4 separate regions of the Homo sapiens genome follow, and regions 1, 2 and 4 are each reported to be linked to region 3. Evidence: microRNA targets listed by miRTarBase, many of them from high-throughput screens and not tested one by one. Region 3 holds a microRNA gene; each other region holds the end of a gene's coding sequence.

Region 1 (7,123 bases), not on the chromosome of region 3:
GAATGAGCACCTATCTAAGGTGCTTCAGAGAAACTCAGAGGAAACACACTCTCTGACCCAAGAAGCTTCTGGTCTAGCTACGTAGACTATAAAAACAGCTTAACGTACTCATGAGGTACAGATAACTAAATATGAATCACTATGTTACACTGTTTTTAATGAACACTATTTTTAGTGTTCAGGACCCTAAAAATGTGAAGCGTTAGATGGGCTAGAGGACGTAGGAGGTGGGTAAAGACTCATTCCCTCTGAGAGTTTTGATTATTGTCTTTTGAGGTCTTTGTGTTTAGAGTTGTGTAGAGGAAGAGGAAATTCAGGAGCTATAAAGGGTGTGGGGTGGCTGGGGAGGGAGAGTCTGATGTTAGAGCTGCCCTTCCTGGGCCTGGGGTCTGTTCCTCCCCAGGGCATGGTGATGGTGAGCCCGGAGATGAATCCTACCATCTGCTCGGTGTTTGAGGCAGAGATAGTCTTACTGTTCCATGCCACCACCTTCCGACGAGGATTCCAGGTGACAGTACACGTGGGCAACGTACGTCAGACGGCAGTGGTGGAAAAGATCCATGCCAAGGTGAGAGGGACCTGGCCTTCCATTTCTCCAGAGGTCAGAAAAGAGGGAGGCCTGCCCCAGACTGGCAGAGAACTCCTTGATCCCACAATGGGAATAAAACCCCACTTAGGGTGGGTAGCGGCCTGATAGGCCTCTGGAGGGTGGAGAGCCACGGCTGGCAGAGAATGGGACAGAAGGCACTGGCCAGGGGAGTGACCACTTATTTGCTGCAGGACAAACTGCGGACAGGCGAGAAGGCAGTGGTACGTTTCCGCTTCCTGAAACACCCAGAGTACCTGAAGGTGGGCGCCAAACTGCTGTTCCGGGAGGGTGTCACCAAGGGCATCGGCCATGTCACTGATGTACAAGCCATTACAGCAGGAGAAGCCCAGGCCAACATGGGCTTCTGAACCCTTCAGGCAGGGACAGTTCTATTGCTGTCCCTACAATATATAAGGTGACTTCTGGCCATGCTGCCCTGCCATTGGCGGCTCTGTGTGTTAATAGGCTAGGGAGAGAGGGGTGCTGTCTGCCACTTGCTCCCTGCCAACTTTCTGGAGAGGTGCCAAACTTGGTGTGGCCAGGAAAGGGCAGTCCTGAGGGAGAAGACAGGATTCAGGGCAGTGCTCCGAAGCTGTGTGCTCACCTGGTTGGCTCATCAAACCTGGCAACCCTGTGGCCTGTCTGCCGGAGCTGACTGGATCCACTCATCAATTCTTCGTCCCCACTACTAAGACTGGGCATGTTTTGCTGGTGTGGTCTCTGCACTTCAGGAATGGTCACAACAGGGGGTAGCCCTCAAAAGCACTCCTTTTTCTATACCTCTTCTCAAGGCCATGTAAGTTGCCCATCTCTACCTGGCTGTGGACAAAAGGTTATCTGCTCTTGGCCATCTGGTGGTGGTGGCGGCCCAGAGTCTGAAGAAATGGCACAGGGACAGTGAATGGTAGTGTTGCCACCCTGTGCTGAGGCCTGAGGCCTCTTCCTCAGCTTTATCTCCCTTTCCTTCACTCAAGGGCCATTTCCCCAGTCCCTATCTCCCCCATCCCCTCCCGGCTTATAGGCCCCACAGGTGCTATTTGTTGTGCTGGCCCAGGCGTGGGGCTACCAAGCAAAGGCTTGGCATATACCAAAGGCCAGCTGCATGCCCATCAGTCTGGTCTTTTTCCTCTGCGGTCATGTTGGCTTTCATGCTGGATCAAATGTTTTACTTTCCCAGACTGGTGGCATCTGAGTTCCCCATCCTACCACTCTCACCCCACTTTCCTGCCCCACCTAAACCCTCGTTTTAGTAATTTGTAGTGACTGTTCCCTTCCCTCTGTTGCAGGGAACCAGGAGGAAAGGGAAAGATGTTGCCATATTTCCTACTCTTTAGGCATGGACTCTCCTTTCCCTTTGTTAGTGTCCTGGGTTCCCATGGACTCAGGGATTTGTTGGCTAAGGTTTCTCTGTGCATATATATATATATACATATGTATATATATTTAAATACACATATATATTGTACAGAATAAAAATGTTTTATTGAATACACTGTGCTTATGCGTTAGCTACAGGCTCAGCTTCCTTCCAGGGCTAGATACCTCTTCAGGATTAGAGACAAGTGAAACCCCAACACTGCTGAGCCCTGAATGTGGAAAGAGCCCAGCTGGTATCTCGTTCACCATTGTTTTTCTCTCCTCCACATAGGTTCAGAGTTCCAGTATTGTAACCAAGTATTGTGGCCTATTTTCCGTAGTTCAAGTGAGCAGAATACTGAGGCCTTTCACGTGAAATAGGTAGCTACCCTGTATTTGAAGAGTTGGCCACTTGCTAGTGGTCAGAATAGTAAGGAGCCCACTTCTGTGCCCTGGCAGAGATACAGTGCCAGCTACTTAAAGAAGAGTAGAATTTAGAGACAAAAGGTAATCTGGTCCCATATTTTTCAAGTTTACATAGCCTAAATTACTCTTGGAACAATGAGGGCCACTTGACCAAACCTTAGTCCCTGCTCCTGTTTCCATGTTCATACTACTTGATTTTGACATTTTATGGGTAAATAGGGGCCAAAGTCAACTGTAAATAGAAACTGCATTTTGAGGAGACCCTGGAAAAGAAATATGTGACCCAAAGTCCTATGTGGCATTCTGCCTCTAGAGTATTAAAGTGATAGCTTCCCTACCACTCAGGCTGTTTTATAAAATGTAACTGGTTTAACTTGCTACTAACAAGCCTGTAGTTGAACAACTTCCTCCTGTATTAGGGGCTAAGCTGTTTACTTCCTCTCTATAGCTGCTGATAGAGATGAAAGCTTTGTCCACAATTTACTTATCTTTTGCCTGTATTGTAAAGAAAATTTTGGAAAATCACATTTCAGTACTTAATAAGACATCTCCAGGAACTAGTGAGCCTCTCTGCAACATTAATGGAACATTTAGGGGGATAAAAAGTATATAAGGCAGACTCCCAAGGAGTTTATACATGTTTATGATCCCAATTGTGGTAATCAGATCTAAAATTCTTCACTATATACATTCATCCAATGAGTATCAGCACCTATCATGTGCAAAGCACTATGAAGAATCTTTGCCTTTAAGAAGCTACATAGCTAGTTAGGGGGAAAAGGCCACGTATACAGTGAATGTAGTCTTTTTTTTTTTTTTTTTTTTTTTTTTTTTTGAGACAGGGTCTCAGACTGTCACCCAGGCTGGAGTGCAGCGGCACAATCATGGCTTATTGCAGCCCCAAACTCCCAGATTCAGGTGATCCTCCCAACCTCAGCCTCCTGAGTAGGTACGACTACAGGCATAAGCCACCATCTTTGTATTTTTTGTAAAGACTGTTTTGCCATGTGGCTTAGGCCGGTTTTGAACTCCAGGGCTCCAGTAGTCCACCCACCTCAGCCTCCCAAAGTGTTAGGATTACAAGCATCAGCCACCGTGACTGGCTAAATATTGTCTTTTATTAGATATTCAAGTATCATAAAAGCAGAAAATATTTTTGAAGAAAAAAATTTCCTGGTAAATCTAGTGGTTTTCAAATCTTCCCCACCTCTTCAAACTAAATATAGAACCCCCCCCCCAATTTATAAATAAAATAAAAAGTAGAAGTTGGGGCTGGCCTGGTGGCTCAGGCCTGTAATCCCAGCACTTTGGGAGGCCAGGGCGGGTGGATCACTTGAGATCAAGAGTTCAAGACCAGCCTGGCCAACGTGGCGAAACCCCATCTCTACTAAAAATACAAAAATTAGCCAGGCGTGATGGTGCATGCCTATAATCCCAGCTACTCAGGAGGCTGATGCAGGAGAATCGCTTGAACCCGGGAGGCGGAGGTTGCAGTGAGCCGAGATCGTGCCATTGCATTCCAGCCGGGGCGATGAGAGAAACTCCGTCACATAAAAAAATAGAAGTTTGGGTATATGTATGGGAGGGATGTGTACACCATTCTCTGGGCCCACTTCACCCAGCGCCACCTACTTCAGTTCATTTTCTTCAGTTGGGTTCCCTGTGTAATTCAAGTTTCCCCATAACAGAAAAGCCAAAAGAGCTGACTTTTCACACACAAGAGTGGAGAATAAGAATACAGTACTATAGGCTGGGCGTGGTGGCTCATGCCTATAATCCCAGCACTTTGGGAGGCCGAGGCGGATGGATCACGAGGTCTAGATAGAGACCAGCCTGGCCAACATGGTGAAAACCTGTCTCTACTAAAAATACAAAAATTAGCTGGGCATGGTGGTGCACGCTTGTAGTCTCAGCTATTCGGGAAGCTGAGGCAGGAGAATTGCTTGAACCCGAGAGACGGAGGTTGCAGTGAGCCAAGATTGCACCACTGCACTCCAGCCTGGCTACACAGCGAGACTCCATCTCAAAAAAAAATAATAATAATACAGTAGTATAAACATGGACAAGTGCAAAAAGCTACATAACAAATTTTAAACCCTAAGCTAAATATTTACACTCAGTGGGAAAGATGAACAAGCCAGTAACCCTAATGGCTGAAGCACTTACCTCTTAAATTTGTACTTAAGGGCTTAAGAAAATGTCCTCTACACACCTGGTCATTAGTATCTTTTAGATCAGCATTTCTCAAACTTTAAGATACACATTGGGAATTTTTTTTTTTTTGAGACAGTCTTGCTGTGTCGCCAGGGTGCAGTGCAGTGGCACGATCTGGGCTCACTGCAAGCTCCGCCTCCCAGGTCAAGCAATTCTTCTGCCTCAGCCTCCCAAGTAGCTGGGACTACAGGCGTGCACCACCACGCCCAGTTGTATTTTCAGTAGAGACGGGGTTTCACCATGTTGGCCAGGATGGCCTTGATCTCTTGACCTCGTGATACACCCACCTCAGCCTCCCAAAGTGCTGGGATTACAGGCATGAGCCACTGCACCCGGCCCACATTGGGAATTTTTTTTTTTTTAAACAGTGTCACTCTGTTGCCCAGACTGGAGTGCAGTGGCACAATCTCAGCTCACTACAACCTCTGCCTCCCAGATTCAAGTGATTCTCCTGCCTCAGCCTCCTAAGTAGCTGGGATTACACGCATGCGTCACCACACACACCTAATTTTTGTTATTTTTTGTAGAGATGGGTTTTCCCCATGTTGGCCAGCCTGGTCTCAAACTCCCAGCCTCAAGTGATCCGCCCACCTTGGCCTCCCAAAGTGTGGGATTACAGGCATGAGCCACCACACCTGACCCACATTGGGAAATCTTGTTAATATCAGATTACAATTAAGTGGGAATAGTGGTGAGGCTGAGACTATTTCTAATAAGTTCCCTGGTGATACTGAGGCTGCTGTTCCTCAAATCATACTTGGGAGTAGCAATGTTCTAGAGATGATCTAGTGGGTTTTTTTGAGACAGAGTTACTCTATCGCCCAGGCTGGAATGCAGTGGAAATCTCGGCTCACTGCAACCTCTGCCTCCCAGGTTCAAGTGATTCTCCTGCCTCAGCCTCCCAACTAGCTGGGATTACACGCACCCACCACCATGCCCGGCTAATTTTTGTATTTTTAGTAGATACAGGGTTTCGCCATGTTGGCCATGCTTGTCTTGAACTCCTGACTTCACGTGGTCCACCTGCCTTGGCCTCCCAAAGTGCTGGGATAACAGGCATAAACCACCACGCCTGGCAAGATTTGATTATGACTTATCAGATCTAAACAGAGTTCCTGAACTAGTCAAGTAGCAATCTAATTCTACATTAGAACAAAACGCAAGAGATAGGCCAATGGTTAGAACTGAGGGTATAATAGGGTTTACCTGTATGAAATTCACTGTTTATTAAGTCACTTTTATGTACAGAAAGACCTGCCCTAGTTACCATATCACTTTTAGGGTTTCAAGGCTTCATCTCACATTCTTCAGCTGAAAACAGGTAAATCTGGTGAAGGTATTATCTGAACTGCCCGTCACAGAGCTAGAGAGAAGTTTTTCTTTTGTTTTTTTTTTTTTTGAGACAGTCTCTCACTCTCACCCTGGCTGGAGTGCATTGGTGTGATCTCAACTCACTGCAACCTCCACCTTCCAGGTTCAAGCAATTCTCCTGCCTCAGTCTCCCGAGTACCTGGGATTACAGGCGCCTGCCACCAAGCCCAGCTAATTTTTTTTAGTAGAGACGGGGTTTTGCCACCTTGCCCAGGCTGGTCTCGAACTCCTGAGCTCCTGCAATCCACTCACCTCAGCCTCCCTAAATGCTGGGATTATAGGCATGAGGAACCGCACCCAGCCTAAAGAGAAGTTTTTCTTTTTTTTTTTTTTTTGAGACGGAGTCTCGCTCTGTCACCCAGGCTGGAGTGCAGTGGCGCGCTCTCGGCTCACTGCAAGCTCCGCCTCCCGGGTTCACACCATTCTCCTGCCTCAGCCTCCCGAGTAGCTGGGACTACAGGCGCCTGCCACCGCACCCGGCTAATTTTTTTTTGTATTTTTTAGTAGAGACGGGGTTTCACCGTGGTCTCGATCTCCTGACCTTGTGATCCGCCCGCCTCGGCCTCCCAAAGTGCTGGGATTGCAGGCGTGAGCCACTGCGCCCGGCCAAGAGAAGTTTTTCTTAAAATCCTTTTTTTGGGGGGGCCAGGATCGGTGGCTAACATCTGTAATCCCAGCAACTTTGGGAGGTCGAGGCAGGCGGATCATGAGGTCAAGCAATCGAGACCATCCTGGCCAACATGGTGAAACCTCATCTCTATTAAAAATACAAAAATTAGCTGAGTGTGGTAGCACGTGCCTGTAGTCCCAGCTACTTGGGAGGCTGAGGCAGGAGAATTGCTTGAACCCAGGAGACGGAGGTTGCGGTGAGCTGAGAACGCACCACTGCATTCTAGCCTGACGACAGAGGGAGACTCCGTCTCAAAAATAAAAAATAAAAATAAAAATAATCCCTTTTTTTTTTTTAACTATGCAAGTCTCATTACATTTAAAACCCTTTTTTAAACTTGGTCCCTTTTCTGTGCCAACTTTATGTTTGTTTTTGTTCTTGTTTTTGTTTGAGATGGAGTCTCGCTCTGTTGCCCAGGCTGGAGTGCGGTGGCGCGATCTCAGCTCACTCCAACCTCTGCCTCCTGGGTTCAAGTGATTCTCCTGCCTTAGCCTCCT
Region 2 (7,123 bases), not on the chromosome of region 3:
TCCCAAAGTGCTGGGATTACAAGCATGAGCCACTGCGCCTGGCCTTATGTTTTTTATTTAAGCATGGTTGTCTCTAGGAAGGCAGTGCAGGGATAGCATTGATAAATGAAATCCATTTATTTTCGATTTGGTTAGCTGTTTAGTAAGTGGATTGAATAGAAAGAAAGTGCTTAAAATATCATAGAGGAAGTATGGTATCAGGGAAATAATTTAGGCTTTGTTGCCCTACAAGTCTGGGTTTGAATCCTGCATCTACTGCTTATTGGTCCTGTGATCATGGTTAAGTCTGTAGCCTTTCTGAGTCTCAGCCTCATCACTTGACATGATATTACCAGGTATCTTAGGTTGTGAAGTCTAAATGTAGTATACATAAAGTATCTAGTGTATATTAAGTTTTGGAACTGATAAGTACCTGTAACCCTAAACATCTGTTAGTAAAGCTTTCTAAGCAGTAATAACCACCTAACATAGAAAGCATGTTCTATCTTGTCTCATTCAACATTCAGACACTCTGGATTTGTATCATGTCTTTTGCCATAAACTAACATTCAGGTGCCATTGAAGTATATTTAAGTAACTTTGGGTTTATAAAACTTGTCTCTACTTCTCTATAGAAGTAAAATTCTAATAGACTAAAAAAGTTTGACAATTTTAGTAGTATGTGAAAGAACCCAATATACTGTTTTAGGTGACTTACTAAGAAAGCATTTTGGCCTTGTTTTGAGTTTATTTTTTCTTTCTCTTTTTCAACAGAAAAAGAAGCTTCCCAGTTCATTTCCAGCAGGAATGGATGTAGACAAATTTTTGTTATCATTGCATTATGATGAGTAAACATTCTGGACACATAAGAACAGTAGGTGTTAAAAACTCATATCCCTTAAACTGAGTGTAGGGAATGGGATATTGACAGAATCTGAAAGCATGACCTGCACTTTCATTGTACTGAAACTTCACTTTATATCTAAATCATGCTGTTTCTGAAACAGCTTCCTAGTTTGTAAATAGACTTACTTGGTATATTTTTATTTTGGGAAAAACGTTTGCAGAAATGTAAGTAAAGCCAATCTGCAAAACTGTATAGCTTTGACAATTCCATATTGTAAATACTGTGTAAATCTTGTTGAAATAGAGGTTAAATCAACCTAATGTTCTTACACTGTGTTTTTTGACTTCTTATGATCCCTAATTCTGAGACTTACTCATCTGGAATAGTTTCTCACTTGTTTTGGAGGAAAATGATGCTTATTCTTATAAATTACCTTCAGTAACTATTCAATAAGACATTTAAATACACAATCACTAAGTACTACAAAATAATAACCACCTCAACTGATAGCAAAATATCTAATTAGAAATCAACAGTTTGATGAGTTTTTTTCCTAGAGTGAATACTACCCCTTTCTTATAATTGCTGTAAGTATTATATTTCTGGAATTTCACACTTTACCTACTCTGATCACTCTGTTCTCTTTGTTTTAAAGAGAGAATTTTGTAAACCATTTATTGAATGTTCTGATCTTTCATTTATAACTTAAGATTTTTTACAGAACTTTAAGTGGTTAGACTATTGAGCCATAAAATTTTGGTTTGTAGTAGAGATTTCTCGGTATGTACTTTTCCCCTAAATGCTGGGGATTTAAAGAATTGCACTAATTCATAGAACTCTTTACATTGTAGTGACCAATGCACATATAATTTAAATCTTGTGTTCTATGTGAGAGTTTATGTGGAGGATTATCTTCTGGTGTTGTGTCCATCATAAGATGTAAAAAGAGAAATCATAGTTTTATATTTTAGTTTCTCCTACAATGGGTATGTTAAATAACTATATCTATACTTAGATATAGTGCATTGTCTGTGTCCCTTAAAGTGTTACAAAGAGTTTCTCTCAAAAGGTCCTTAAGGAGAGTGAGAGATGAGAGAGGTGCCTTCTCTGTATTAGACTCACACACATCAGTCCAGTTGAAGAATTGGTTTAAACTTTTAAATGAGAACAGAAATTATAATTAGTACCTGACCAATTGTGCCTAGATATTAAAGTATGTTCTCTTTAGTACTTTCCGTTCAATTAAATATCAGTATATTAGGGATTTTTTTCTACAGGTGTATATTTTGTTGAAGAGTCACTTTCCTCAACCATTTTTTTGTACTGGGCCTTTAAAAAAATAAATCCATCCAACTTTAACACAACATTTCTCAGTGTAGAAATCATGTCTTCTTAATTGCTGAACCTTACTGCAAAAACTTGTGATGTAAGAAATTTGTATGGTGTGGCAGTGGTCTATTCCTAAGGAACTAAATATCATATAGTTAATGTTTATTTAACTCAGCTTGAGACTGTACTACAGTTAGGTTTGAATAAATATTTTCATTAACTTCAAAAGTTTGAATTACTTTACATTGGCAGTCTTGTTTAGAAACTGATTAAATTCCTTTGCAAGTCAGTTCTTTTTGGGAGTTTGTACAATGCTGAAAATCACAGTTTTCTTCTTATTCAATTCATAGTTGTATGTACTAAGCACTGAAAATTCATATACAAATAAAATAAGTTTACTTTCTTCAAGATTCATAGTTAACTAACCAGGAACTGCTAAGTAAAGTTGAAAGATAACTTGTACTTGGAGCTTTTATGTTCAAGAGCAAAATCATATCCCCATTTTACCTTAAAAGTCCACAGGTCCTGAACTTAATTATACTATTGTACCTGGTAACCTATTTGAATACTTAAATGCCCAGTGACTGCATTTCAGGGTTGATGTATACTACAACAATCCATGGCTGTTTTTATAATTACATATGAGGATCCAGTCTGTTGTTTGGATATTACTTAGAGGTTAATGCAGTCAGTGTATGCCAAATCTGAGAAGTGTTGTTAAGTAAAATCTTGTTACAGATTTAGCCCTGGATATATTAGAACTATAGTGTGTTGAAATTGCGCATAAGAAAAGCATCCATCAGCATTCATGCAAAGGCTACATGTCATGACTATTAGGAGTAATTTCAAAAGCATATTACTATATATTCTGCATTCATCCTTTCTCTGGTCATCATCTTTTAGGCTCAGGCCCAGCTTTCTGAAATTACATAAGTTTTGACTTTATTATTAGTTATTTTGCTGCTTCCTTTAAGCAATGGACTCATTGTGTACTTTTTTCTTTTTATAAATGTTATCATTTTGTCATACTTTTGTCTTTTTTTCGTAAATTTGTATCTACATTGTTGAACACATGGTACATATAGCTTCCTAATGCTTTTTGTTTTGTTTTTTTTTTTTTTTTTTGAGAGAGGGTCTCACTCTGTTGCAGGCTGAAGTACAGTGGCACAATCATGGCTCACTGCAGCCTCGATCTCCCAGGCTCAAGTGATCCTCCTACCTCAGCCTCCCGAGTAGCTGGGACCACAGACATATCCCATCGCACCCAGTTTTTTGGGTTTTTTTGGTTTTTTTGTTTTTTGTTTTTTGTTTTTGTCTTTCAGAGAGATGGGGTCTCACTATGTTGCCCAGGATGATATCAAACTCTTGGACTCAAGCAGTCCTCCTGCCTCGGCCTCCCAGGTGTTGGGATTACAGGCATGTGAGCCACCTCATCCAGCTGCTGCTTTTACTTCCAATAATATAAAGCTTTTTCCTTTTTTTAGCTATTACAAACAAAAACAGCAGTGAGCATTTTTATAAACATTTGTTTATGTTAACTATTTCCTTAGAAATTTTAGAGAGTAGAATTACCAAATCAAGAAGTTAGTGTACCTTTTTTTAAGGATCTCAGTACATTTTGCCATATGCTGCTATTAAACTTGCGTCAATTTACATTTCTACCAGCAAATTGTCATTTTTTTGCATAGCATATGCTTATCCATTTCCAGAGGCATATTCACCTATATCATCACCTGTTTCTAGGTTTGTGTTTCCTGATTTGGTAAAATTAGGAGTTAGCTCCTAATCCATTTGTTACTTGTTTTGGTACCTGATATGAAAAAAGGGTCAATGTACATTTTTTCCCTAAATATTTAACTGCTTGACAATTTGTTCACTTGACAATTTAACCACTGCACAGTTTGTTCAGATAAGCTTTCCTTTCCCCTGCTCATTTATTTAAGATGTCTGTCTTATCCTACACTGATTAACAATCTCTTATTCACAATTCTAAAACCCAAAAGGTTCCGGCAACCAATTTTTTTCCCCTAGATTTAACATCAGAACTCATTCTGTGGCAAACCTGACCTGAAATGACACGAGGCTACTTAACAGTCTTTATCTCATTTATAGTAATGTTGATTAGTCTGCTGTTCCAGACTCAACTGGGGGGCATATGGTGCATACATTTGAGTTATTTTTTAGAAATCCAAAATATTCTGATTTATGAACCCCAGCTAACCCCAAAGGTGTGTATGATCAAAGATTTTGGACTTGTATTAAATGTACACACATATATACACACTATATGGTATGTGTATCGTCTATTCTGTGCCACTGATTAAATCATTATAACTTTTGTGTCCACTGTTACTGTTTTTGTTTTTTCAAGTATTCACCCTTTTATGCTTCCTGGTGAACTTTAGAATCACTTGAATTATTTCAGGTTAAATTTCTATTGGAATATTTGAACTACATTAATGTCATAAGCTAATTCATAAAGAAGCAAAGGGTAACGATCATATGGTATGTATCAAAGTGTTATAGTTATCCCTATCAGAAATTTCTTGCTAAACTGGATGTTTTTGTTTGTTACTATTTTTAGAAAGCTCTTCATTTCATAGTTTTAACTGGTTATTGCTGTTATGTAGGGATGGTCTTGCTTTATTAATATAAAATTTTTATGGAGACACATAAAGAGAAAAGTGCACCACTATAAATTCATGCCCTTCAGTGAATTTTCTTTAAGTAAATACATCCACATAATCACTTTGAACATTACCAGTACCCTAGAGTAGTCATTATTGTGACTTCTGGCACCAGAGATTTAGCTTTGTTTTCCTTAACGATATCAGTGGATACATGGAGTATATAATCTGTGAGAAACACTCGTTTTGTATAATTCAGCTCAGTCATGCTCAATGCTGTGTATATATTCATTGTATTATATTACAGTTAATCCATTTTATAGATGGTAAAAGGTGCTTATTGTGAACAGACTGTGCTGTGAACATTCTTGCACATTTTTTTATGAATGCATTACACTTCTCAGTTGGATAAATACTTAGGAATAGGGTTGCTGGAACACAGTTGCATATATTCAGACATTCAGATTTTTTCATTTTCCAGAATGGTTGTAACAACTTATGCTGCACTCAACAGTATAATAAGTTCTCGATACTCTGTGTTATTTCTGATGTTAGATATTTTCATTTAGCCATTTTAGTGGTGTGTATTGGTATATGTTTTGGTTTTAATTTGGTGTTGGTTTTTTGGGTTTTGTTTTTTTTTTAATGAAGTTGAAAACCTTTTCAAATACTATTTGGGTTATCTTTTGTGGACAGTCCAAGGTTTTTGCCCATTTTAGTATTGGGTGTCTGCCTTTTTCTTACTGATTTTTACGTGTTCTTTCTGTATTCTGGATACAGGTCCTTTTTCGGATGGATGTTAGGTGTCTGAGTATTCTCCCTTGTTATTCTTCTGAAAGCGTTATGGTTCAACCTATTTCATTTTGATTTGACCATCTATCTGGAATTGATTTTCCACATTGATATACAATTAACCCACACTATTTATTACCAAAGATTATCCTTTCCCAACTACATTGCACAGTTACTTTTCTCATAAGCTGGTAAATGTGTAGGTTTGTTTCTGGACTCTATGCTGTTCCATTGGTCTGCTTTCTTTAAGATGTGCTAATAACACACTGTCTTAATTAATGTTGAAAATCTTTTTTTTTTTTTTTTTGAGATAGTCTCACTCTGTCGCCCAGGCCAGAGGGCATTGGTGTCATCTCTGGTGACTGTAACCTCCGCCTCCCAGGTTCAAGCAATTCTCCTTCCTGAGCCTCCTCAGTAGCTGGGATTACAGTTGTGCGCCACCACACCCAGTTAATTTTTGTATTTTTAGTAGAGACAGGGTTTCACCATATTGTCCAGGCTGGTCTTGAACTCCTGACCTCAGGTGATTCACCCACCTCAGCCTCCCGAGGTGCTGGGATTACAGGCGTGAGCCACTGTGCCAGTCCCAAAATCTTTTATATTTTAGTTCTATTTATTTTCTATACTGAGTGAAGTCTGTTAGTACTAATGGATTTACCAGTGCTACTTTTTAATTTGTGAAGTATTATCTGTAAATAATTATTTTCCAATTTTATTTATTTTTACTACACTGATATTAGCACTTCCAGTGCAACTAATAATGATCAAAGTCTGCTTCATTGTCTTGTTCCCCATTTTAATGGCAATGTTAGGTATAATGTTTGCTTTTATTAAGTATAATGTTTGCTTTTGTTGGTAGAGTTTTACGATTTTACATCAGAAGTACCTGTTCAACTTAATTGCCACGTTTAAGCATCAATTAAAATATTTTCATTGAACTCATGAATTTCTTTTTATATTAGTGATTATTTTAAGTAAGTTTGCTTTGTGAATATTTTATTTAAATGTTTTTGGTTTTTGTTTTTGAGACAAGGTCTTGCTATATTGCCCAGGCTAGAGTGCAGTGGCTGTTCATGGGCACAGTCATAGCCCACTATAGCCTTGAACTACTGGGCTCAAAGGATCCTCCTGCCTCAACTTCATGAGTAGCTGGGACTACAAGTGCACACCAACACACCCAATGAAAAGTTTACTTTTAATGAGATTGGTTTCAAACTTATGCCAGTTTTTAAAATGAATTTTAAACCTTTCCTTCTTTTTCTAGTTTATTTGAATATTGGGGATAATAAATAGTACCAGTGCTAAAGTGTGAAGTTTAAATTGTACAATATATGTAAAAGCACTTAGATTAATGCCTGGAACATAATAAGCACTTTAAGAACTAGTTGCTATTATAGCTGATGCTGTTTTTTATTTCTTTTTTCTGCAACAGTTTATTTAGAATGAGAAATAACTGTTCCTTGAGACTAAATCACTACTAAATTATCTAGGCCTGGAGCCTTTTGCTTAAGCAGTTTTCCATTTTTTTTTCTCCTAAATTTCTTCCTGG
Region 3 (7,123 bases):
ATAGCAACAAATAAAAATTATACAGGGAGACAGCACATGGTATACTATCTGGAGAGCATTACCTGTGACACTCAAGCTAGGTTGTGAGTACAAAGGAGATTTATTATTTAAATTGTATACATTTCATATGCTCTTTTAAGTGTTGGCAGTAGTTCCAATAAAAAAGTTAAAATCAAAGACTTAGTCAAAGTTTCCTACAACTCCAAATGACCTCCATCAAGTGATTTTTCACTGCTAAAAGAGGCAAGTTCAAAGCATCCTTTTCCCACAAACACTATGCTGTCCTCTCCTCTAAATTCCTGCTCATATGACTGCACCTAGAATGGATATTTTCCTCTTCTCTATCCATTTTCTAACCATCCTTCAGGTTCTAGCTCAAGGTCCACTTCCAACTAAAAGGTCTTCTTTGACAAAATCCAGCTTCCACAAATCTCTTTGTTAATGGCAATATTTCTTATGGTCTGAACTTCTCATGAAACTCATTTCCATATTGTTTTGATTTGCTACCTGAATTTACAGGTGCTTCTACACTAGTATAGAAGAGTACTGGATTTGGAACCAGAAAATGTGGATTCCAATGCCCCAGCTACAGATCTCTGACAAGATTCTTTTACCACTCTGAGCTTCAGTCTTTTCACCTATAGATTACCTCAAATCTGTAAGGACCAAATTGGCACAAGAAATGTGAATTAAGGCCAGGCGCAGTGGCTCACACCATAATCCTAACACTTTGGGAGGCCGAGGCGGGTGGATCACCTGAGGTCAGGAGTTTGAGACCACCCTGGCCAACATGGTGAAACCCCGTCTCTACTAAAAATACAAAAATTAGCCGGGCGTGGTGGTGAGCACCTGTAGTCCCAGCTGCTTGGGAGGCTGAGGTGGGAGAATCATTTGAACCCGGGAGGCAGAGACTGCAGTGAGCCGAGATCGCACCACTGCACTCCAGCCTGGGCGACAGAGTGAGACTCCGTCTCAAAACAAAAAAAAAGAAATGCGAATTAAGTACCATTCAAACCACACATCAGTGTTCAGGAGATATTTATGGCTTTGGCTGTTTGGTGGATTTCTAATCTATACTATAGGGCCATAGAAGCCAGAAACTGATTCATACATAATAAGAGAGGGAATGAGATGTTTCCTAAGTACATTTCTAGATAACTGAAGCTTATCTCTTTAACTGCTACAATCATTTAGGGTTTGGGGTTTTTTTACTCCCATTTTGGATGAAAACCTCTGTAGAATATAAATTATAAATTCCCTTCATAGACATAAGACACAAAACATCTTTTAACCTTTCAGTTATAATTAGGATCAGCATTATGGATTAAAATTACTCTAATGAAGTATATATAGTGACTCACTAAGCTGATATGCAAAGAGTTAATTATTGTGGTTTTCACTTTATGCTTGTTTTTGCACTTCTTCTCTTTCTACCCCCCCATCAAATTATTAACACATATCTCTAATAACTCTATTCCACATTTACTTGCTACACCCAATTCTTTTTCTTTTTTCTTTTTTTGAAATGGAGTCTCACTCTGTCACCCAGGCTGGAGTGCAGTGGCGTGATCTTGGCTCACTGCAACCTCCGCCTCCCGGGTTCAAGCAATTGTCCTGCCTCAGCCTCCTGAGTAGCTGGGATTACAAGCGTGCACCACCACACCCGGCTAATTTTTGTATTTTTAGTAAGACGGAGTTTCACCATGTTGATCAGGCTGGTCTTGAACTCCTGACCTCGTGAACCGCCCGCCTTGGCCTTCCAAAGTGCTGGGATTACAGGCATGAGCCACTGTGCCCGGCCTACTTGCTACACCTAATTCTGAGAAACCAGGTAACACTAGGTCTGTTTTGCTGCACGAGTTCTGGATACAATTTGGTGATTTTGAACATAGCTATCAATCACTCAGCTTTTTCCAGGCTGAGTGGTGGATAGCTACGTTCAAAATCACCAAAGTGGCTGGATAAATCAAAGTTCTTACTTTGATTTAAACCATACTTCTTTTGTAGATCATCTCATACTAGCCAGACCCTCTATATAGGAGCTCAAGATTCCTGAGGAACTCAAACTGCAAGCTCTATTGGCGACACACTGGCACAGATCGATAATATTATCTTCACAATGGATAATAATCACCATGAAGCAATGCTGTGCCAGAAACTTTAATAAAGTATTTGTAATTTAAAGCCACCCCTGGGAGCAAACCACTCCTGGGAGCCATTCTTAAGTACAGTATCAAAACTTACCTGCAAGCCGGGAATGGTGGCTCACGCCTGTAAACCCAGCACTTTGGGAGGCTGAGGTGGGAGGATCACTTAAGGTCAGGAGTTTGGGACCAGCCTGGCCAACATGGAGAAACCCCACATCTAGTAAAAATACAAAAATTAGCCAAGTGTGGTAGCACACGCCTGTAATCCCAGCTACTAGGGAGGCTGAAGCAGAAGAATTGCTTGAACCCATGGGGCAGAGGTTGCAGTGAGCTGAGATCGCGCCATTGTACTCCAGCCTGGGTGACAGAGCAAGACTCTGTCTCAAAAAAAATTAATTAATTAATTAGTTAAAAACTTACCTGAAATAAAATTAAACAGATTTCCAGATTTGCTGCTTTGCCATTAAAGATCTTTATGTACAGCGCTCACACCTATAATCCTAGCACTTTGGGAGGCTGAGGCAGGCAGACCACTTGAGCCCAGGAGTTTCAGACCAGCCTGGGCAACATGGCAAAACTCCATCTCTACAAAAAAATTAGCTGGACATGTTGGCATGCAACTGTAGTCCCAACTACTTGGGAGGCTGAGGTGGGAAGATCGCCTGAGCCTGAGTAGGTTGAGGGTGCAGTGAGCTGTAATCCAGCCACTGTACAACAGCCTGGATGACTGAGTGAGATACCATCTCAAAAAAAAAAAATCTTTATGTAACTGAGGTGATACAACCAACTAAACAACTGGTGCAGCTGTCTGTACTTTCATTAAAAAACACAGCTAACACAGCTCCATAAAATGGAGTGTGTATGAAGAGGAGTTTGACAAAGGAACTTCTGGAAATCTGTGAAAATCTGATCAATGAACAAGCATTCTTAGTACTTTTGTGCAAACCATAAAGTCATGTTTCTTTCCTACTATGAGTTCCAGTTTATAAAGACCTGCTTATAAAAAATAAATAACATAATAATAATTACATACAACATTTTCAAGAAGCATACCTCACTGAATTGCTGGAACAAAACAGATGACAAAAAGTCCTGAGGGTGTAAGTCAACAGGGGGCCCCGTCCAGTTGCTCTGAACAAAAAGTTGCAAACTGCTCACACCAAGTAGAAATATCAACTGTTGTCTGCATATAAGAATGGTTAAAGAAATAAATATGAACTACTATCACTGTATAATCTCAAACACACTATTCCATTTCAGTTTTATTAAGAAAATAATATCTATCAACATTTATTGAGACTATCCTAGAGTATTACCAAAAAAAAAAATTTCTAAAACTTAAAACAATTTAGGTTAGCTAGGCACAGTGGTTCATGCCTGTAATTCCAGCACTTTGGAAGGCCACGGTAGGAGGATCATTTGAACCCAGGAGTTCAAAACCAGCCTGAGAAACATAGTGAGACCCTGTCTCTACAAAAAAATTAAAAGTTAGCCGGCATGGTGGTACATCCCAGCTACTCAAGAGGCTGATGCATGAGGATTGCTTGCAGCCCAGGAGTTTGAGGCTGTAGTAAGCTTTGATCATAGCACTGTACTCCAGCCTAGATGATAAAGCGAGACCCTGTCTCTCTTAAAAAAAAAAGAAATTAGGTCTACAATATCCAATATTATAGCCACGAGCCAAACATGGTTTAAATTTGCATTAGTTAAAATTAATAAAATTTATAATTCAGTTCCTTAGTCATACTTTCCATATTTCAAGTGCTCAATAGTTAAGTGTGGCTAGTGGCTACCATGTGGGCAATGAAGATAGAGAGCACTTCTATCTCCACGGAAAATTATCTTGAACGGTGTTGATTTAGGTTCTGATCAGACATCTATAAGTTTTTCTTGCACTCCCTTTAACAGCTCTGATGTTGCAAGATGTATAGAAAACTGACTTTATACAAAAGAAAAGTGATGATATAAAGTTGTTGCTAATTGTTTACCAATCCCATACCACCAAATGCTAGAACAACAACAACAACAAAACATATAGATATTTTAGTGAAAACTCTATTTTTCAGTCTTGCTGTGATGTGAGACAGGGATAGGCAAACTTTTTCTAAATATGAAATATTTTAGGCTTTGCATATCATGTTTGTTTTTTTCCAACCCTTTAAAAATGTAAAACCCATTAATTCTTAGCCACTTAGTTAGCCTGCCAGCCATAATGTGCCAAACCCTAAATTAGGATCTAAATAGGTACAGATCCAACTCTAGCAAATAACAGCCAGGGAATCCTGGAGTTTCATTCTGAAGAGAAAGTATTAGTAATCACTTTTTTCCCCACAGCCCCTAGGCCCTTCCTTAAAAGGAAGAGTCTTTCAGAAAAAGAAAAAAAAAAATCAAACATACAAGCCTATGGTAGCAAAAATATAAAACTCTGGATGCAATGCAAATAAGCAGCATTAGAGAAAAAAGATAACAAAAGAGCTGGTATGCAATCAGAAGTTTGGAAATTTGGAGAAAACAGCCTTAATAAACTGTCCTAATCAAAAAACAAAATCCATAAGGTGAACTGAAAATACACTTTAACTTTCAAATGTCTGAAAATGAGTCAACTGAAATGTCTCTTTTTAGCTTTATGTGACAAGATAGAAATCTGGTATATCAGTGAATAATGCATTTGTGTGAATGTGTTGTTTTAATGGGTGCCACAAGGCTAGTTGCTATGAGAGTGCACACATATAAGAAAGCAATGAGAATCCAGCCGGGCGGAGTGACTCATGCCTATAATCCCCACACTTAGTGAGGCAGAGGTGAGGATTGCTTGAGCCCAGGAGTTCGAGACCAGCCTGAGCAACATATCAAGACACCATCTCTACAAAAAGGAACTAAAAAAAAAAAAAAAAAAGAATGATACCAAAGGAACATAACTACCAGTAAACTAAAAAAAATTAAATGGAGGCTGGGCGAAGTGGCTCACGTCTGTAATCCCAGCACTTTGGGAGGCCGAGGTGGGCAGATCACCTGAGGTCAGCAGTTCAAGACCAGCCTGGCCAACATGGTGAAACCCCATCTCTACTAAACATACAAAAAAAATGAGCCAGGTGTGGCACAGGCCTGTAATCCCAGCTACATGGGAACCTGAGGGAAGAGAATCACTTGAACTTGGGAGGCGGAGGTTGCAGTGAGCCGAGATCACGCCTCTGCACTCCAGCCTGGGCAACAGAGTGATACTCCATCAAAAAAAAAAAAGAAAAAAGAAAATGAATAATATTAATTTTCAAAATAAAATTAAAAGCCTGTAGTAGCATTCTTTTGCAAACTCCTTATGAATATGGGTTATGCTTTATTCATCCTCAGAACCTCCACATCTACTACAATAGTTTATTTGTTGAAGGACTAAATGAAGCTATTTCCTAGAAATAATGGTAAAATAAAATTGCATGCATTTATAAGATAATTAAAGCTTGACATGGTTGCCACAGATAGTAGACGAAAGATAGAGGTATCAAATTTATAACAATGAAATATAAGCCACTGAAAAGCTTAGGTTTCCCTGCTGTGTAACTATCTGCTATACTTAACCCTATAAAATTACACAAACTTTAATGGAAGAAGGTAAACCAAGGGCTTCCTTACAAAAACATTAAGTTCTCTGAGCTCTATAAAGATAATAATCTAAAACATAATAAATAGTTACAAATTAGCACTCAGCTATGCAGAAATAACAAGATTGAAAGTATGTTTTTTGTTTTTTGGTTTTTTTTTGAGACAGAGTCTCGCTCTGTCGCCCAGGCTAGAGTGCAATGGCGGGATATTGGCTCACTACAACCTCCACCTCCCAGGTTCAAGCGATTCTTCGGCCTCAGCCTCCCTAGCAGCTGGGATTACAGGCGCATGCCACCATGCCCAGCTAATTTTTGTATTTTTGTATAGACGGGGTTTCACCATGTTTGCCAGGCTGGTCTTAAACTCCTGACCTCATGTGATCCGCCCGCCTCGGCCTCCGAAAGCACTGGGACTACAGGCGTGAAGCACTGCACCCAGCCTGAAAGTATGTTTTTAAGTTAAAGGAAATAAGGTCTGAAGTTTTGCCGGTGGGTAAAGCCGACCAGACCTAAGCATTTGCAGTTAACACCAAAATATGTGCCAGTCTCATATATGAAACCATTTTATCCTGCACCACTTTACTTCTTCATTCTGGATGGACTTCTGGATGAGTTTTTACATAGATTACTTGGTACACCATGAGTCTTGAGTAAAATATAAGGCAAGGTTTCTCAACTGCTAAAATCAGGGCCTTACCCTGTCAAGGTGCTATTAAATGTATTTGCTCTGTTCCTCTATGAAAATTTCAAATAAAATTCTACCTTTCCGTTGTGTCCAAATCTGTTGAGTAATCCAGGAATGTTACTACCTGCTTCTCCAGGTAGCTATCAATCTTTTCTTCAGCGGTTGTTGTTGAATTAAAAATATTTTGAGTCATTGAATTTAAGAATATGGCTTCATAGTTCCCTTCCAGTAGCAATTGTAGGAAAGATCCACTCTCTGTAATATAAAAAATTAGTGCGGTAATCCAAAAAAAATTATTTTTCATACCGTAAAGGATAACACTATTAGGTAAATCTACCATTTTAGTGTGCAAAAACAATCTATAGACTTAGAATGATTACTGTATGTCAGTCACAAGGCACTCAGTAAATTTCCATCATTCTACAAACATTCTCTCTCCTAGAATTAGCAGCTCACTCATACTGACTATGAGCCCCAAAGTGGAAGTCAGCCCCAGAAATAATATTCCTCATTAATAGGTATTTAGTCTTTTGCTGGGAAATTCACAAAGATTCCTACTGACAATACAAAAGTTTCCTTAGTCAAGGTTCTAAAACTTTTCACAATCTGGTTCTTTCTACCTCCATTATTTTCTCTTCTTGAAAAGTCACTCCAAGAGCGCTGGTTTACTCATTGTTTCCCTAATGTCCCATGCG
Region 4 (7,123 bases), not on the chromosome of region 3:
GTTGTAGTGAGCCGAGATCATGCCACTGCACTCCACGCCTAGGCAACAGAGTGAGACTCCGTCTCAAAAAAAAAAAAAAAACCCACTTTTTAAAAAAATAAGAGCTCATGGTACCTATTTGCATCCAGTACATCATTGAAGCTTGTAGAAAGCTGCTTAGTTAAAGTGAGGTTGGGTCACTTCGAAGTAGTCCTCCAGTTTTCTAAGCAAGTAAATTTTGGAGGTAGAAAGAAAATGTTCTCCTTTATCCTAGAGGCTCGACTGTGGTATGGTGGGCCCGGGTCATTGATTTGCTTTGTCCTTAATTGGTTGCTCCTACCTGACAGAAGTGAAATGGGTGTTCTGATGGGGGGTGGTGGGTGGTGACTTGAGAAGGTCCGGGAGCCTGAAGTGGGATGAATGAAGAGCACAGAGGCTCGTTGGGAGGCGAGGATAAGGGGGTGCAGAGGCCAGATCCCACAGGCCAGGAGAGGCTGGAACTAAGGGCTTGGGCTTGACACCAGTTACAGCAGGGGCCTAACACATTCTATTAGGTTGATGCAAAAGTAATTGCGGTTTTTGCCATTAATGTGTTAATTGCCATTAAATGTTAATTTGCACCAAATACCTGTCTGGACCCTCGGTGTCCTCCTTGTAAATGGTGTGGTCTGGGTGCCTCCATGTTGAAACATTCGATAAAAATGGATGATGTCCCCATCTCAAGTGCTGGGCTGTGTGTACATCTTCCCTCTGCCTCTCCCCACAGGCCTCCACCGCTATGTCTGGCTGGTTTACGAGCAGGACAGGCCGCTAAAGTGTGACGAGCCCATCCTCAGCAACCGATCTGGAGACCACCGTGGCAAATTCAAGGTGGCGTCCTTCCGTAAAAAGTATGAGCTCAGGGCCCCGGTGGCTGGCACGTGTTACCAGGCCGAGTGGGATGACTATGTGCCCAAACTGTACGAGCAGCTGTCTGGGAAGTAGGGGGTTAGCTTGGGGACCTGAACTGTCCTGGAGGCCCCAAGCCATGTTCCCCAGTTCAGTGTTGCATGTATAATAGATTTCTCCTCTTCCTGCCCCCCTTGGCATGGGTGAGACCTGACCAGTCAGATGGTAGTTGAGGGTGACTTTTCCTGCTGCCTGGCCTTTATAATTTTACTCACTCACTCTGATTTATGTTTTGATCAAATTTGAACTTCATTTTGGGGGGTATTTTGGTACTGTGATGGGGTCATCAAATTATTAATCTGAAAATAGCAACCCAGAATGTAAAAAAGAAAAAACTGGGGGGAAAAAGACCAGGTCTACAGTGATAGAGCAAAGCATCAAAGAATCTTTAAGGGAGGTTTAAAAAAAAAAAAAAAAAAAAAGATTGGTTGCCTCTGCCTTTGTGATCCTGAGTCCAGAATGGTACACAATGTGATTTTATGGTGATGTCACTCACCTAGACAACCAGAGGCTGGCATTGAGGCTAACCTCCAACACAGTGCATCTCAGATGCCTCAGTAGGCATCAGTATGTCACTCTGGTCCCTTTAAAGAGCAATCCTGGAAGAAGCAGGAGGGAGGGTGGCTTTGCTGTTGTTGGGACATGGCAATCTAGACCGGTAGCAGCGCTCGCTGACAGCTTGGGAGGAAACCTGAGATCTGTGTTTTTTAAATTGATCGTTCTTCATGGGGGTAAGAAAAGCTGGTCTGGAGTTGCTGAATGTTGCATTAATTGTGCTGTTTGCTTGTAGTTGAATAAAAATAGAAACCTGAATGAAGGAACTGAGTCCCCGGATGTTTTGTTCTATTGGGTATAGGTTTCATAAGTGTGAGAAGTCAAGTCTCAGGGTGAGTCGTCTCCGTGACCAGCAAGTAACAGCTGGGACTTGTTCTAGGGGCCATATGGAGGGTCTGTGCCTCTACATGTGCCATTAACCCACAGCAGGAGCAAACAGTTCAGATTTGAGGTTTCTAAAAAAAAAATCATAAAATGTGAGGCCGAGTCTTATTGCCCAAAAAGCACCTTTGCTTCAAGTGGTCCTTTTGACCCAAGAAGGATGTTCTAAAGAAGATGGCTGAAAACCTTCCCCCTTGGTGAAGTCTGGCGCGGACACCGTAACAATGCCTAAGAAGTAGCCTGCACTTCCCGTTCTGATGTGTTATCCACAGAGGCTCAGTACCAAAGAGGTGCGCAGGGTAGGAGGGTGAGAAGGTCACGGTCTCATGCCATCTGATGTACCGAAAGAAAGGAAAGGAGGTGTTTGAAGGTGCAAATCACTGTGATTTGGTCTCTGCGATGCAAAGGGGGGGGTCCTGAATCAGGCCTGACAGGTGCTAATGACTAGCCCTTCCCCATCTTTCACTGCAGTACTTTTTTCTCTGAAAAAACTTGGAAATGTTGCCTTGCTGGAAGCACATAAGGTAGATGTAAGTTTTCTTTTTTTCTTTTTTTAATTTTTTTGAGATGGAGTCTCACCCTGTCACCCAGGCTGGAACGCAGTGGAATAATCTCGGCTCACCGCAACCTCCACCTCCTGGGTGGGTTCAAGTGATTCTCTTGCCTCAGCCTCCTGAGTAGCTGGGATTACAGGCATGCACCACTATGCCCAGCTAATTTTGTATTTTTAGTAGAAAAGGGGTTTTGCCATGTTGGCCAGGCGGCTCTCAAACTCCTGACCTCCTGACCACTTTGGCCTCCCAAAGTGCTGGGATTACAGGCATGAGCCACCATGCCAAGCCTGGAAGTTTTTTTTTTTTTTTTTTTTTTTTTACTTTAGAGTTCTAAAATTCGTTTTTTTACGTAATAAGATTTTGTTGAACACAAGTTACAAAGAAAACAACTGTCAGCTGGGCGCCGTGGCTCACGCCTGTAATCCCAGCACTTTGAGAGGCCGAGGTGGGTGGATGAACTGAGGTCAGGAGTTCAAGACCAGCCTGGCCAACATGGTAAAACACCATCCCTACTAAAAATACAAAAATTAGCTGGACATGGTGGCGGGCGCTTGTAATCCCAGCTACTAGGGAGGCTAAGGCAGGAGAATCGCTTGAGCCTGGGAGGCGAGGTTGCAGTGAGCTGTGATCGCGCCATTGCACTTAAGCCTGGGTGACAAGAGCGAAACTCTGTCTCGAAAAAAAAAAAAACTGTCCTGTTGACCTTGGAAATAAATGTAAAGTCTGGGCATGGAGACTCACACCTGTAATCCCAGCACTTTGTGAGGCCAAGGTGGGGCAGATCACCAGCCTGGGCAACATGGCAAAACCCCTCTCTCTCTAAAAAAATGCAAAAATTAGCCCGATGTGTGGACTCGTTCCTGTAGTCCCAGCTACTAGGGAGGCTGAGGTGGGAGGATCACTTGAGGTCAGGAGGTCAAGGCTGCAGTAATTCCAGCTACTTGGGAGGTGGAGGCAGAAGAACTGCTTAAACCTGGGAGGTGGAGGATGCAGTGAGCCAACATCACGCCACTGCACTCCAACCTGGGTGACAGAGCGACACTCCATCTAAAAAAAAAATAGAAAAAGAAAAACATATTAATACTAACACGGAACTAAAGAGAAAAAAAAATACATATATATGAGAAGGCAGTAGTCATCTAAGAAAGAAGGGTGATGCCTTCAACTGGTATGTGATGTGAACTTCCCCAAGGGCGGCTAGGAAGGGGGTGACCCCCATTCTGAACTCAACTCTGGCCTCAAGGTCCAGCTGATAACCACCGGGCCCACTGGGTCACAAATTCCAGCTTCCTCATTTGAAAAAACATCAGGGTTGCAGGGGGTTGTCAGCCTGCCTTATTTACCTCACAGCGTTGTTGGAGGACAAAATCATCTTTTTTGGGATTAAGAGTTAATGTATGTAAATGACTAAACTTGGCCTGATTGTCATATAAGAACAAAGTACAAAAGTCCAGTTTCCTCAGGTCTGTTTCCTCACTGCAGCCTCCGCCTCCTGGGTTCAAGCGATTCTCCTGCCTCAGCCTTCCTAGTCCCCCTGCCTTCCTTACTGCCTCCTCAGGCAGGTACTAGGAGGAGTAGGACAACTCTGTCCATAGCAGGTGTTTGTTAGGAGCAGGGACCCACATCCCTGCTTCCGGGTAACTGCCCTGGGACACATCCTTGACAAACTTGCGCAGTGGGACTTTTTTTTGAGACCGAGTCTCATTCTGTTGCTCAGGCTGGAGTGCAGTGGTGCCATCTTGGCTCACTGCAGTCTCCGCCTCCCGGGTTCAAGCGATTCTCCTGCCTCAGCCTCCCGAGTAGCTGGGATTATAGGCGCCCACCACCACGCCCGGCTGATTTTTGTATTTTTAGTAGAGACGGGGTTTCACCATGTTGGCCAGGCTGATCTCAAACTCCTGACCTCAGATGATCCACCCACCTCGATCTCCCAAAGTGCTGGGATTACAGCTGTGAGCCACCGAGACCTTTTCTAAAGATAGCACCTACAATCTCAGACATAGGGCCCTTTCCCAAACTAGCTAGACATTTCTCACCACAGTGAGAAATGGATGAAAGAGGCTACAGGAAGCTTTTCTACCCTACTGAAGGTGGAATACTCCTTTGGGTATAGATCAGACAGGTCTCGATTCAGACCCCACCCTGCCACTGGAGTGAGCTTATTTCTTCATTTGTGAAAGCCTAGTGTTCCATCATGTGGCAAGCGTAAGCACGCCATCGACGTTATCTGTTTCTCTAACCCTTTCCAGTATTATTTTCAGATGTACCTAATATAGAAACTCCAATGAACAGAGGTACTTAGGAAACACAATTATCACTGAGTGTGATGTTACAGAAGGTTTTGTAGTTGGGATTAACCCATGTTGATAATTATTTATGAGTATACCTTTCTGCTTTAGCCTATCAGAGTGAACATGACTGGTCACATTTGTCTCCGATACATGAACATCCTGTAGGAAACAAGAGTGATCTTTAGGTCATCATATTCTTTTCTTTTGAAACAGAGTTTCACTGTTGTTGCCCAGGCTGGAGTGCAGTGGTGCCATCTTGGCTCACTGCAACCTCCGCCTCCCACGTTCAAGCGATTCTCCTGCCTCAGCCTCCCGAGTAGGTGGGATTACAGGTGCCCGCCACCACACCCAGCTAATTTTTGTATTTTTAGTAGAGATGGGGTTTCACCATGTTGGCCAGGCTGGTCTTGAATTCCTGACCTCAGGTGATCCACCCACCTCAGCCTTCCAAAGTGCTGGGCCCACCCCACGTCATCATACTCTAAAGAGCAATTTCCAGGAGTGTCCAAGGGAGAGAACACAAGTCATGGGTTCTTAGTTTCTGTTTCTGGTTGGGCCAGTAAAGCCCCTTCCTCGTCCCCCTTTTCCATTTATCACTAGACACAGAAACCAAAAACCATAGCTTCAGGCTGCCAAAAGCCTAGAACAAAACAAAACAGAGTAACAACAAAATAAGGTGGGTTGGACAAGCCTGATTGATAGAGGCTTAAGCATTTGGGATCTTACTGAGATTGTCCTGACTCCCAAATCATATCCCTGAAATTTTATATTTTTTACTATCTCATTGTTTTACATGTAAAATTATTCTAATAAAAGCAGAATATGAGGGGAGAGGGATCTAATATTACAGTGGGGTCATTTCAAATATTTGGTTATAGTGCCTTCTCCACAGCCTGCTTTTCTTTAAGGGTGCCCAATTTCTCTCTTCAGCAATGCATGCTTCTATGCACGACTGGCACGTGGGGGGTTTTGTGTGTGTGTGTGTGTGTGTGCGCGCGTGCGCGCGCACATGCCTTCTATTCTTTAGGACAGAAAGGTGCAGTTGACCACGTGCCCACATCGAATGGTGCAACACTATCTTCAGCCCCATAGAAGAACTTGGAAGACAGAGCTTTACCTGAAAGGCTTGAATGGCTCTTCTTGGAGCGACCGAGGCTATGGAGAACAGTTTCAGGAGGGTGGCTGTCCCTCTGAGTTGTGAACTGGTGAACCTAGAAGGGAAACTTCCTGCTACAATAACACAGCAAGGCGATGTGATGAACACTTTTATTTACAAATATAATTAAAAGCTCTGACAGTTATCATGCTCTTCCTTGGAACCTGAAAAATGTTTTGTTTTGTTTTTAAAGTGCATGCAAAAGAAGTAAAGCCTTTTTTTTTTTCATCATTTTTTATTGTAAGAAAATACACAGTTTGAAAGTGTGAATAATGCAATATTTATGACCAAGAAATGGGACTTAGGAAGGGGAAGGGAGATAAAGAAAAAGATCAAGATGATCTGATTGAGAGACAGTGTTGAACTCCAAATACTGAACTGGAAAAGGAGGGAGGTGGGGAGGAACAGGAGGAGGAAGTAAAAAAATTTGATCAGAGAAACAGTTAAAATACAATATGAAAATAAGTAATACCTCTCCTTAAATTCCTTCTATACACAAAATACACGATTTGCCAAAGCCCAATTTGTGCTACTGGGATTCTGTGAGCTCCTTAAGTGTATTCACATCCTCTGCAACAGCAGAAAATGATTATGATACAATCAGAATATGCTGAAGACAAGTTAAACTCTTGCCAGCAGGTTCTTAAAAATCACAAGATCTCTTCACCCCACCCACCCCCCGTCCCCAAAAAAGTAATAATATGTCACCACTGATATGTACATCACAATTAGTTTCTGTAAAATGTATCAAATTTTCAATCTTTAATAAAACTTTGTTTTTTTTATTCCTGATGAATAAATACCAAAAAAATAAAATAAAATAAAATAATGCAGCAGCTAGTTAAGGTGTAAGGCTGCGGATATTGTGTCTCTCTCCCCCTTGGCATTTATTATTATTATTTTTTGCTTTACTTTCACAGATTGGTGGTAATGAGTGATTGCTTAAAGCAATATACATCCACTTTTTTTGTTGTTGGTTTATTGGTTTTGTTAAAACTGTCTCCAAAGTTTTCACTGAAACATTTTGAATCACATCAATACTGTGACGTGTACTGTGAATAGAAGAGACGGCCAGGTTTTGGCCAGCACTGAAAGTTGACACGGGGGGAGGAAGGGGGCCCCTGATGGAGTAAGAATAAACAGGCACTAGTCCGACACGATGTCAGTAAGAGTAAGAGAGAGAGAGAGTGAGAGCAACGCCCGTTAAAATGGGGAATGTGGTTTTGCAGGGTCTGAATTTTTTTCTGTTTTCTTTTTTT

What was found. The annotated mature microRNA hsa-miR-4765 reads UGAGUGAUUGAUAGCUAUGUUC and lies in region 3 at 1,885-1,906, opposite strand. An mRNA with a match to its seed (bases 2 to 7 or 8) in the 3' UTR can be bound and repressed. Matches are read on the target gene's strand: a 7mer-m8 pairs with bases 2 to 8, a 7mer-A1 pairs with bases 2 to 7 and ends in A, and an 8mer does both.
Region 1: miRTarBase lists GTPBP2 as a target of hsa-miR-4765. Seed matches in the 3' UTR shown: 7mer-A1 at 1,555-1,561.
Region 2: the mRNA of NPAT is a reported target of hsa-miR-4765. Seed matches in the 3' UTR shown: 7mer-m8 at 1,456-1,462.
Region 4: the mRNA of PEBP1 is a reported target of hsa-miR-4765. Seed matches in the 3' UTR shown: 7mer-A1 at 1,139-1,145 and 7mer-A1 at 1,416-1,422.

The regions. Positions count from the first base shown.
Region 1 is chr6:43,615,448-43,622,570 of GRCh38, reverse strand. GTPBP2 (GTP binding protein 2) reads left to right here. Exons shown (of 12, transcript NM_019096.5): 11 at 404-568; 12 at 781-2,077. The coding sequence ends at 957. It overlaps POLH (DNA polymerase eta), which reads right to left. Exons shown (of 11, transcript NM_006502.3): 11 at 2,048-7,123. Among named protein-coding and RNA genes, the nearest start is that of GTPBP2, 10 kb to the left of the region's middle.
Region 2 is chr11:108,152,650-108,159,772 of GRCh38, reverse strand. It overlaps NPAT (nuclear protein, coactivator of histone transcription), which reads left to right. Exons shown (of 18, transcript NM_002519.3): 18 at 754-2,558. The coding sequence ends at 831. Among named protein-coding and RNA genes, the nearest start is that of ACAT1, 35 kb to the right of the region's middle.
Region 3 is chr2:32,630,083-32,637,205 of GRCh38, reverse strand. MIR4765 (microRNA 4765) reads right to left here and starts at 1,951; the gene lies at 1,875-1,951. It overlaps TTC27 (tetratricopeptide repeat domain 27), which reads right to left. Exons shown (of 20, transcript NM_017735.5): 2 at 6,506-6,683; 3 at 3,201-3,330.
Region 4 is chr12:118,143,841-118,150,963 of GRCh38, forward strand. PEBP1 (phosphatidylethanolamine binding protein 1) reads left to right here. Exons shown (of 4, transcript NM_002567.4): 4 at 746-1,744. The coding sequence ends at 963. It overlaps TAOK3 (TAO kinase 3), which reads right to left. Exons shown (of 21, transcript NM_016281.4): 21 at 5,961-7,123. Among named protein-coding and RNA genes, the nearest start is that of PEBP1, 11 kb to the left of the region's middle.